Linked DNA regions of Homo sapiens. The protein of the gene in region 1 purifies or fractionates together with the protein of each later gene. This does not show direct contact. Each region holds a gene or a part of one and is shown on either strand. Other genes may lie near its edges.

What was found.
Region 2: the proteins of MLC1 (region 1) and PTGES2 purify together in Homo sapiens (affinity purification with mass spectrometry; one large-scale study listed by BioGRID and IntAct). This does not show direct contact.
Region 3: the proteins of MLC1 (region 1) and DTNA purify together in Homo sapiens (affinity purification with western blotting, with the first as the bait; one study listed by BioGRID). This does not show direct contact.

Annotation. Positions count from the first base shown.
Region 1 is NC_000022.11:50,061,254-50,064,982, reverse strand, and holds part of MLC1 (membrane protein MLC1), read left to right. Parts: intron 1-784; coding exon 785-949; intron 950-3,325; coding exon 3,326-3,400; 3' UTR 3,401-3,729. UniProt on the Homo sapiens protein: Transmembrane protein mainly expressed in brain astrocytes that may play a role in transport across the blood-brain and brain-cerebrospinal fluid barriers. Regulates the response of astrocytes to hypo-osmosis by promoting calcium influx.
Region 2 is NC_000009.12:128,122,462-128,124,729, forward strand, and holds part of PTGES2 (prostaglandin E synthase 2), read right to left. Parts: intron 2,090-2,268; coding exon 2,031-2,089; intron 1,391-2,030; coding exon 1,241-1,390; intron 674-1,240; coding exon 473-673; intron 186-472; coding exon of another isoform or gene 140-185; exon of another isoform or gene 25-139; intron 19-24; coding exon 1-18. UniProt on the Homo sapiens protein: Isomerase that catalyzes the conversion of PGH2 into the more stable prostaglandin E2 (PGE2) (in vitro). The biological function and the GSH-dependent property of PTGES2 is still under debate.
Region 3 is NC_000018.10:34,874,138-34,877,866, reverse strand, and holds part of DTNA (dystrobrevin alpha), read right to left. Parts: intron 2,629-3,729; coding exon 2,469-2,628; intron 149-2,468; coding exon 59-148; intron 1-58. UniProt on the Homo sapiens protein: May be involved in the formation and stability of synapses as well as being involved in the clustering of nicotinic acetylcholine receptors.

The DNA.
Region 1 (3,729 bases):
ACTGCACGCCAGCCTGGGTGACAGAGGGAGACTGTCGCAAAAAAAAGTTTTATGTTAACTTGAGAAGAGCTGTTCGTTCTGTTTCTTCTCTTACTTTTTGTAGCAGTGACATTGGATAGATGTTTGGCTCTTTTGTGTGTTAACATTTAGTTGCTTTGTTTTTCTTGAGCCAACACGGGAAAGCTATCCATGGGCACAGAGGGTTTTGGGTGCTCCGTGGTCACTCTCTGGCCCCCTGCATCCTCGGCCGCTCCCTCCATCCTCTTCCCTGCCGAGCTCACCGCGCTGCCTCCTGCCCCTTCCTTCCTAGCAGCTGGTGCTCAGGGGTGAAGCTGTTGGGGGTCTGTGCACCCCATCCCCCCAGGACGGCTGCCCCCTGTCTCCTCCGCTCAGGATCCTGCTGACACGGAACGGTCAGCGCTTCTGCCTCCCGCGGACATTCTCTCTGGCTCTGGGACTGAGCCTTGCGCGTGTTGGAGCAGGAGGGGTGGAGCGACTTGACCACTAGCAGCCAGCACTGTCCACGGGGCCTGGCAGTGGCTCGGTCACTTTTATTCCTGTATGTTGAACACAAGCTGATGGAATTTAAAGCAGAATTGACCTCATTAATTGAGCTAGAATGATTATCATCAGGTTGTTGAAATAGCAATGCGTTTGGGTTACTGGGGCTCCGACTCGAGCCCTGGCACCTGCTCTTTGTGAAGGCCGTGGGCACGAGGGAGCTTTGGTCTCCTGGGCTGGAGGGCGGCTGGGCCACTCTGCTCACACCTCCTTCCGCCTGCAGCCATCCTACGATGTGCTGCTGCTGCTGCTGCTGCTAGTGCTCCTGCTGCAGGCCGGCCTCAACACGGGCACCGCCATCCAGTGCGTGCGCTTCAAGGTCAGTGCAAGGCTGCAGGGTGCATCCTGGGACACCCAGAACGGCCCGCAGGAGCGCCTGGCTGGGGAGGTGAGTGGCCTGCAGGGGGAGGGGGCACTGGGGAGGTGAGTGGCCCACGGGGGTGCCCAGCCAGGGAGGTGAGAAGCCTGTGGGGTGGGGGGAAGCTGGGGAGGTGAGTGGCCCACAGGGGTGCCCAGCCGGGGAGGTGAGTGGCCTGCAGGGGGAGGGGGTGCTGGGGAGGTGAGTAGCCCACAGGGGTGCCCAGCCGGGGAGGTGAGTGGCCTGCGGTGCAGGTGCTGGGGAGGTGAGTGGCCCATGGGGGGCCCAGCCAGGGAGGTGAGAAGCCTGTGGGGTGGGGGCACTGGGGAGGTGAGTGGCCCACAGGGGTGCTCAGCCAGGGAGGTGAGAGGCCTGTGGGTTTCAGGGGTGCTGGGGAGGTGAGTGGCCCACAGGAGCACCCGCTGGGGAGGTGAGAGGCCTGCGGTGGGGGCTCCTGTCCTGGTGAGGGCCTCCGAGGGCCACACGACGTGGCCCTCGAAGATTCATTGTGCCACTTTGTATTTTTAAAAACACCCCAGAAAAACCCCGAAGAAGTAAAATGTCTTTCTTTTCTTTTTTTTTTTTTTTTTTGAGAAGGAGTCTCAGTCTGTCACCCAGACTGGAGTGCAGTGGCGCGATCACGGCTCACCACAACCTCCGCCTCCTGGGTTCAAGCAATTCTCCTGCCTCAGCCTCCCGAGTAGCTGGGACTACAGGCACCCGCCACCAAGCCCAGCTAATTTTTCTATTTTTAGTAGAGATGGGGTTTCACTATGTTGGTTAGACTGGTCTCGAACTCCTGACCTCATGATCCGCCTGCCTTGGCCTCCCAAAGTGCTGGAATTACAGGCGTGAGCCACCGCGCCCAGCCGTAAAATGTCTTTTAAAAATACAAACACAAAGCCTGGGTAAACCCAGACCCATCCCTGGGAAATATTCTGGACTTAATGCTTTCAGATTTGCTCTTAGAGACACAGAAGAGGGCTTTGTGAGGACTCCCACAGGTCCTGAAGTTTCCTTCCCTGGTCTCTGGTGGGGACGCGGTTCTGCAGGGAAGGCAATGCCCACCCAGCCTGGCACATGGGGCTCCGTAAAGCTGGGGTGTCAACAACTTCTGGCTGTCACTGCCTGAACAATGTTCCCCCGGGCCCTGCCTACTGTCTTGCTGCCCCCACATCTGAAAGGCAGAGGCTCAGCGTCTTCCCCCCACCGAGCTACGGGTCCTGGTGGTGCTCCCCTGGGCAAACCTGCCCGCTGACCCTCAGGTGCAGTGACCACTAGGACTGTCACCTTGATGCCCAAACACCTGGGCAGCCACTCAGCGGGGCTCTGAGTCCTGCCCCACCTCTAGGCCATCCTGGGCGGACCGGCCGCTGCTCTTGCCCTGCACACCCTGCCCTCCTGTGTTCAGCACACCACCGGCCTCAGAACCTTGGTGCAGAGCCTCCAGTGCCCGCTAAGTCCCGGAGGACGCTCTCTTGCCCTTGGCTCGTTTCTCAGCTGACCCCGTCGCCCCCACCCTCCACCCTCCCTACTGCTGTTCCCTTAACCTGCCTCCTCAGTTGCTTTGCTGCCATTTTTCCTGGCTGTGGTCAGTCTCCCTGCTAGGACGGCAGTCCCTGGGCCTGAAATGAGACCCGCCTGGGTTTCTGTTGTGACCAGCAAGGCCCAGAGTCAGACGCATGAGGTGTTCTCCCCAGATCCCAGAACTGCTGGTCCCAGGGGCTCAGGGTGGGCGGCTGGGGCTCAGGGTGGGCGGCTGGGGCTCAGGATGGACGGCTGGGGCTCAAGGTGGGTGGCTTGGGCTCAGGGTGGGCGGTTGGGGCTCAGGGTGGGCGGCTGGGGCTCAGGGTGGACGGCTGGGGCTCAGGGTGGATGGCTGGGGCTTAGGGTGGACGGCTGGGGCCCAGGGGCTCAGGGTGGGTGGCTGGGGCTCAGGGTGGACAACTGGGGCTCAGGGTGGACAGCTGGGGCTCAGGGTGGACAACTGGGGCTCAGGGTGGACAGCTGGGGCTGGCGCTGTCCTCCCTTTTGCCTGGAGGCATCTGGTTACCTCTGCCTTAAGTGTTTTCTTCCTCAGCCGTCAGGCACATGCCCAACCTTGGGCGGCCTCCCCCCGCTCCCCGCCCCAGAGCCAGGGCAAGGGGCCGAGTGAAGGGCTGCTCCATCCCAGGCTCGGTAGAAACCGTGTGTGCGGGGGGGGATGCAGGCGTTTCTGGGACACTGAGGAAGTGAAGGCTTTTATCTCTTTCCACAGAGGCCCAGGGGTTAGTTTCCCCACTTCCTTCACATTCGAAGAAAACTTCTGAACGCTGGCTGCTCGCTGCCTGTGGCCGAGTGGCGTGTCCACCTTCCCGCCGCACAGGTGGCCCTGGTGAAGTAACACCTTTCCTGTCTCGGTTGCAGGTGGCCAGGAGCCCCCTGAAGGAGTTCGACAAGGAGAAAGCCTGGAGAGCCGTCGTGGTGCAAATGGCCCAGTGACCCCCAGACGCGGAAACCGGGTGGCAGCGCCCAGCCTGGCCCCAAGCATGGAAACGCACAACCCCTAATCGCCCTGAGCTACTGCTTCTAACACCTCTTTTCCCTTGTGTGAGGGCAAACCAGGCTGCAGGTGGGGTTTTCACTTCCTAGGGTAGTTTAATTTTAAAATAGGCCAATGTTGGCTAGTCTGTGCCTCAGTGAGATCAGTCAGCTCCGAGTGGCTCCCGTGTCGTAACAGCAGGAGCATGGCCGCAACTTCCCAGGCCGAGGAAGGGCCCCCGGCTCGGCCTCTTGAGAGCCCCACCCCTGAACTGGCCCCAGCTCCTCTT
Region 2 (2,268 bases), on another chromosome or scaffold:
TTGTCCTGGAGGCGGTGCCTGGGCGGGGAAGGGAAAAGCCCCTCAGGGGAGCCCCCACTCCCAGCCCAGCAGGGAAGAGGGTCTCCTCTGGGGAGAGGGGGGAGGTGTGGAAGCCAGGACGGCACCCCAGGTGAGAGCATCACATCTGCAGACGCCTCAGGGAGCATCCGTCCCAGACGGGGAGGCTGTGGTAAAGGCAAGAGACCAGGCCAGGGAGAAAGCCACAGAGGAGGCGCCAGTCAGGGCCCAGGCTTCCGGCTTCAAGGCCAGCCCTGCTGTCCCCAGGGGAGGTGAGCAGGAGCTCTGGGTCCAAGTCCCATCTTGGCCAAGGGACCCATAATCCATAATGCGTTTCCCACCTGCCCTAGGCCTCGGCCTCCCGCTGGTCTCCTGAGGGGTGTGATGGGATCACCACTGCTCGTGGCACCGGAGGCTCGGGGACAGCAGGCCCCGGATGTGCACACACACTTGCCTGCTCTTGAGTCGCTTGCTGATGAGGTACATGGCCGCTGCACCCATGTACTTGGCCACGGCACCCTCCACGGCTCCGAACTTGCCCTCGCGGACAATGTAGTCAAAGGACGCCAGAGCCTCGGTGGGCGTGCGGTACACATTGGGGGAGATCAGGTGCACCAGCCAGTCGTCCGCCCACTGCCGCCACTTCATCTCCTCCCTGCGGGCACGGGAGGGACTTCCTAAGCCAGGACCCGGGCTGTGTTGGGAGCAGGCTGCATTCTCTAGAACATACCCACTGCACGGGCGGGAAGCTGAAGCCTGAGCAGGAAGGTCTTTTTTTTTTTTTTGAGACAAAGTCTCGCTCTGTCACCCAGGCTGGAGTGCAATGGCACCATCTCAGCTCACTGCATCCTCCGCCTCCTGGGTTCAAGCGATTCTCCTGCTTCAGCCTCCTTAGTAGCTGGGATTATAGGTGTGTGCCTCCACACCTAGCTAATTTTTGCATTTTTATAGAGATGGGGTTTTGCCATGTTGGCCAGGCTGGTCTTGAACTCCTGACCTCAGGTGATCTGCCTGCCTCGGCCTCCCAACAGGCTGGGATTACAGGAGTGAGCCACCACGCCCGGCTGCAGGAAGGTCTCTACTGAAATCCGGCATGGCCCGGCCCCAGCCCCGCTGGTCTCCCATGCTGCTCCCTGCTCACGCCATCTTGCTCAGCTTGGTCCTACTCTACAGAAGACCCCTGCGGTCACCACCTTCCCCCGCCAGCCCCAGCCCCACTCACGTCCTGGCCTCCTTCCCACCATACACTTGCTGGGCCTCCTTCTCGTTGAGCATGAGCCAGTACTTATTGCCGAACTCGGTCACCTCCTTGCCCTGCTCGTTCACAGCCTTCATGGCTGGGTAGTAGGTGATGATCTCTTCCAGGGGCTGCCTTCGGAGAGAGCCACAATATCACCCCAACTCCTTCCCCCTCCGTCCCCTGTGGCCGACCAACCCCGCTGCCCCAGCCTCAGAGTGGAGCCAGGACCAACAAAGGCTCTCCGGACTCTTGCAGTAAGAGGGATTTGGAGTAGATGCCAGGGCTACCTCCCCAAGAGAGGGAGGTGTGGGGAGGACAAAGTAGGGGGCTTGGAGGAGGACGGCCACGGGCTACTCTGGAAAATCATTTTTTTTTTTTTTTGAGACGGAGTCTCGCTCTGTCACCCAGGCTGGAGTGCAGTGGCACGATCTTGGCTCACCGCAACCCTCTGCCTCCCGGGTTCAAGCGATTCTCCTGCCTCAGCCTCCTGAGTAGCTGGGACTACAGGCACTCGCCACTATGCCTGGCTAATTTTTGTATTTTTAGTAGAGATGGAGCTTCGCCATGTTGGCCAGGCTGGTCTGGAACTCCTGACCTCAGGTGATCTGCCTGCCTCGGCCTCCCAAAGTGCTGGGATTACAGGTGCGAGCCACTCTGTACTCTGGAAATCTAAGCAGCAGCTCCACGTGCTCCCAGGAGGGAACTCAGGGGAGGCCTCCCTGGAGGAAGCCACCAAAAGCAATGGCCACCTGGTCTCCGAGGGGCTCCTTACCCCGACACCAGGTAGGTCTTGAGGGCGCTGATGATGACAGAGGAGTCATTTAGTTGTTGCTGGAAGAGAAAAGGGTGGTTTAATCAGAGGTTGCAACCCAGCCGCTGGGAGTCACCAGGGGCTCTTTAACAAGACACTCTGGGCATTGTTTATCCATTCCTGGGGACATGCCCGGAGTCCTCCCCGCCCTGCCCTCAGGGCACCCATCCTAAGTAGGGAGACGTGGTTGTGGCCAATG
Region 3 (3,729 bases), on another chromosome or scaffold:
TAGCACTTATGGATCCCTCCATGATGAGCAGACAAATGAGAGGGAATCAGGAACTCACCAGAATTCAGCTCTTTCACAAGAGAGGACATAGTGTTAGTGATGGAATCTGCAGCCACTAGCAAGTCATTCCTTAAGTTTCTTCTTGAACCTTCAGGGAAGAAGAAATAATTTAAAAAACCAAAGCTTCCTTCTATCCTAAATTTTTATGTTGTTTATTTATCCTTCCCATTAATAACCTAAAGCAAGAAAACTTCTAAGACTTCTCCTTTTCAGAAGTGCTTTAGTTCATTTCCTGAAACAAGAACAACAACAACAACAAAACACTGCTTAGGGCAGTGGGTCCTGCAGTAAGAAGACATGGCTAATGATGGAGTTTCATATATTATTTGTCCATATGGGGACAATTTTGAAGGTGAAAGAGAGCAGTATGAATAAGGCTGGCTGACCTGGCAAAACTGGGATGGTTCCAGGTAAACCAGTGCGTGTGGTCACCCTTCTTAAGAATAATCCACACAGATGAAAAATCAGGTTTTCCAGGAGAGCTGCGCCTTCCTAGCTGCTATTATTTTTCTTGCCCTTACCTGGTGGCTGAGCCCTTTAGATTCTGGTCTCTACTAGGACATGCGCTGTCTCCTATCAGGGCTCTTGGAGCTCTTCCTGCCAGTGTAAGTACCACTTGGGAATGGGAAACCCACATGCACTGAATGCCCCCAGAGCGTGAGAAAGGGGTGAGGATTCTTGTTTCTTCTGCCAAGACATGGGCAGATGCATGTCTGGTACTATAAATTGGAACTTAGACTATGTTTCTTTATGGCAGAGAAAGATTATTATTTTGTTTCAGGCACACTAAGGGTTAATGGAATTTCATTCCGTCATTTTTCAGAAAGTAATACTAACTAAATAAAATAATAAATGTTTAAATTAAAAAAATCAGAGTAGTTAAGTAAAAACATTAATTATAATGGAAATCACAAATTGATTTAAAATATAGTACATTTCTTTAAAATATGATTAAGAGAAGGGATATTTTCTTTCTAAAAATTAAAAGTTATTTTGTGAATTACATTTTTAAAAACTCTTGAGTTATATTCAGTGCCTAGAAGAAAAAGTTCTAATATAGATCCTTCCTTTTCCCTCAGAGTAGAGAGTTCATCATTCTCTCTCATTGAAGTGTGTTAAGATTTTATCACCCCTCTACATGGACGAGAGTACCTTTTTCCTCGCACTTTTGCTATCCCTGGATATTATGATGTTTCAAAACATTTTTTTAATCTTCTAGGCAAAAAGTGATACTTATTAAAATTTATATTTCTGTAATTAGAGGTTGAACATCTTTTCATATATTTATTGGCAATTTCTCTTTGTTCTTCTGTCTATTCGTATATTTCACCTGTTTTTGTTTTGGTGGTGTCTATTCTTTCTGATCTCTACATGATTTTTGTATAACTGAAATTATGAAACTTGATTGACACATATACTGGAAATGGTTTCCTCAAGACTGTTTTCTGTCTTTTAACTTTGTTTATGATCTCTTTTGCCTTAAAACCCATATTCAAACATGTCTCTCTTTTCCTTAGATCTCTATGTGAAGACTTCGAAGAATGTTAATGATATATTGCTAATTTAAAGAAAATGCAAATTGCAGACCCCAAAATGCAATGCATGATCCTATTTGTGTGAAAAAAAGAGTATGTGTCTATAATCACATCCTTAAACATATCTATTTACACAAAAGCAAAACTTTGGGAAGGATCAAACTGTTAATAGTGGTTACTTCTGGGAATGAAAGCTGCCGGTGAAGGTCTACAGAATGATTTTTTTATTATTATTCTCTATAAATTTAAAAAGTGATAGTAAGAAGAGGTTTTAAAAAGTGTTAAAAATATTTCTAAATTAATAAAGTTACTCTCCCTGTCATGGGAAAGTGCTGGCTGGCATCCCCATCCCTCTTTGTACTCCTCTAACTGCAGAGGCTTAACCCTGTAGCCCTGCCTTACAGAGGCAATGATTCAACTCTTCGGGGCATCAGAACAGGGAATCTGTCAAATGACTAAATGTCCTTCTTGGTTACCTCATTGCTAAAGAGCTGTGATTACTTATCTCAGTCTTGACTTTAATATAAAGAAAAGACAATATGAGATAAGAAAATCTCTAAGAATTAAAAAAAATAGATTACATTTATGAAGTTTTCTGGGGGTATTGGTGAAAAGATTTCCTGTCTTTTGATGAACAAAGACTTACTAAAAAATAAGGCAGGGCAACAAAAGCCAAAGGAAGGTAAAATCGTGAAGTGAGAACAAATTGGTGTAGGGAGTTCCCAAAATGGCTGGCAGGCCAGGCTCTGACACCAGCCATGAAAGACCCTACAATAGTCACATGTGGTTCTGACAACTCTTGACCACTCAATAGACCTTGGTGACCTATTTGCCACATAAAAGCAGACCACAACAAAAAATAAAGCCACTTACTTTGTGCAAATGCCTCTTGTACATCTCCCCCTACTCCTGTGAGGGAGTCCTGCGGCGTGTGCGTCGGGGTGGAGCAGGCTGACGCTGACCGGATGGGCATGGGAATTGGCCTGCTGATGGTGTGGCTGGGGGAGGAGCGGGGAGAGCCTGCCCCCTGAGTCTGGAGAGACAATGCAGGTCATTAATTTGCTTTCCCAAGAAAATGTCATATGTCATCCCCAATGCCTCAGTTGATTGTTGAAAACAGTGACAATGAAATTTCAAAGCAGGAGGAAATCCTAGGTAATTGTGTTGGTAATCCTAAAGCTAATTTGCAGGTGCAGATAATTTAGGACCTTATTGTATGTAATCTGAAGTTTGGGTTAAATATTGAAAGCTAAAACTATTAGTACAGCATTGCTCTACAGTATATGGGACATGTGCCCATAAAATGAAGGTACTGTTAAATGCAGATAATTACAAGGTGTGGATACTTTCTCCTTGAAGGAAGGTCTCCGAGGACTAAGAAGACATTAAGGAGAAAGTTTAAAATACAAACTAGAAGACTATTTGCAATGGATGCTTTCTGAATTTTCAACCTGACTGTACTAGCATTATCTTTAGAGGATAAGAGTTTAAATCATGTCATACAATATTGTGCATATTAAGTCTCAAATTAAGAATCAAATGAAGTGTAAATTGTTTTATCCCTATTTTATAGTAAAAGCTGATTTTGTCAAATTAGTAACTCAGGGATTCCAATGGGGAAGAAGAAGAAGAAGAAACCTTGTTTTCTAATTTTTTGGTATTATTTCCTGCAGGAAATGTCCTTCTCTTCTCCTATGAAAAAGCAGTATTCTAGCAGGACAATAAGAATAGTAGGATTTAAAGACAAGTAAAGAAAAAAGTAGAAAACAACTGAAGGAACTTATCTTTGCACTACAGTTTTTGGCATGAAACTATTCTGAGACTGTCACACTTTGAATCTTAAGGATTTGTCTCTAAATGAGGTGCCTTGGAAATATTCTCCCTGTTTTAATAATTAGTTGACAAAAGAAGTCAGCCACATGCGTAAGAAAATGCAAGGAGACCCTTGAGTGCATACACAACAGATTAGGTGTTCACATCAATTCCATCCCAGTCTGTTTGCTGTGGTTGCTAGAGTGAGAATTCTTCTCCAGCAAGGCCCAGAGAGTCATCATTAACCCATTCAAACTCCTAGATGTATACCACCAGAGCAATGCTCTGGAATATTCCATTTAGATATTTGCTTTGGGCTCAG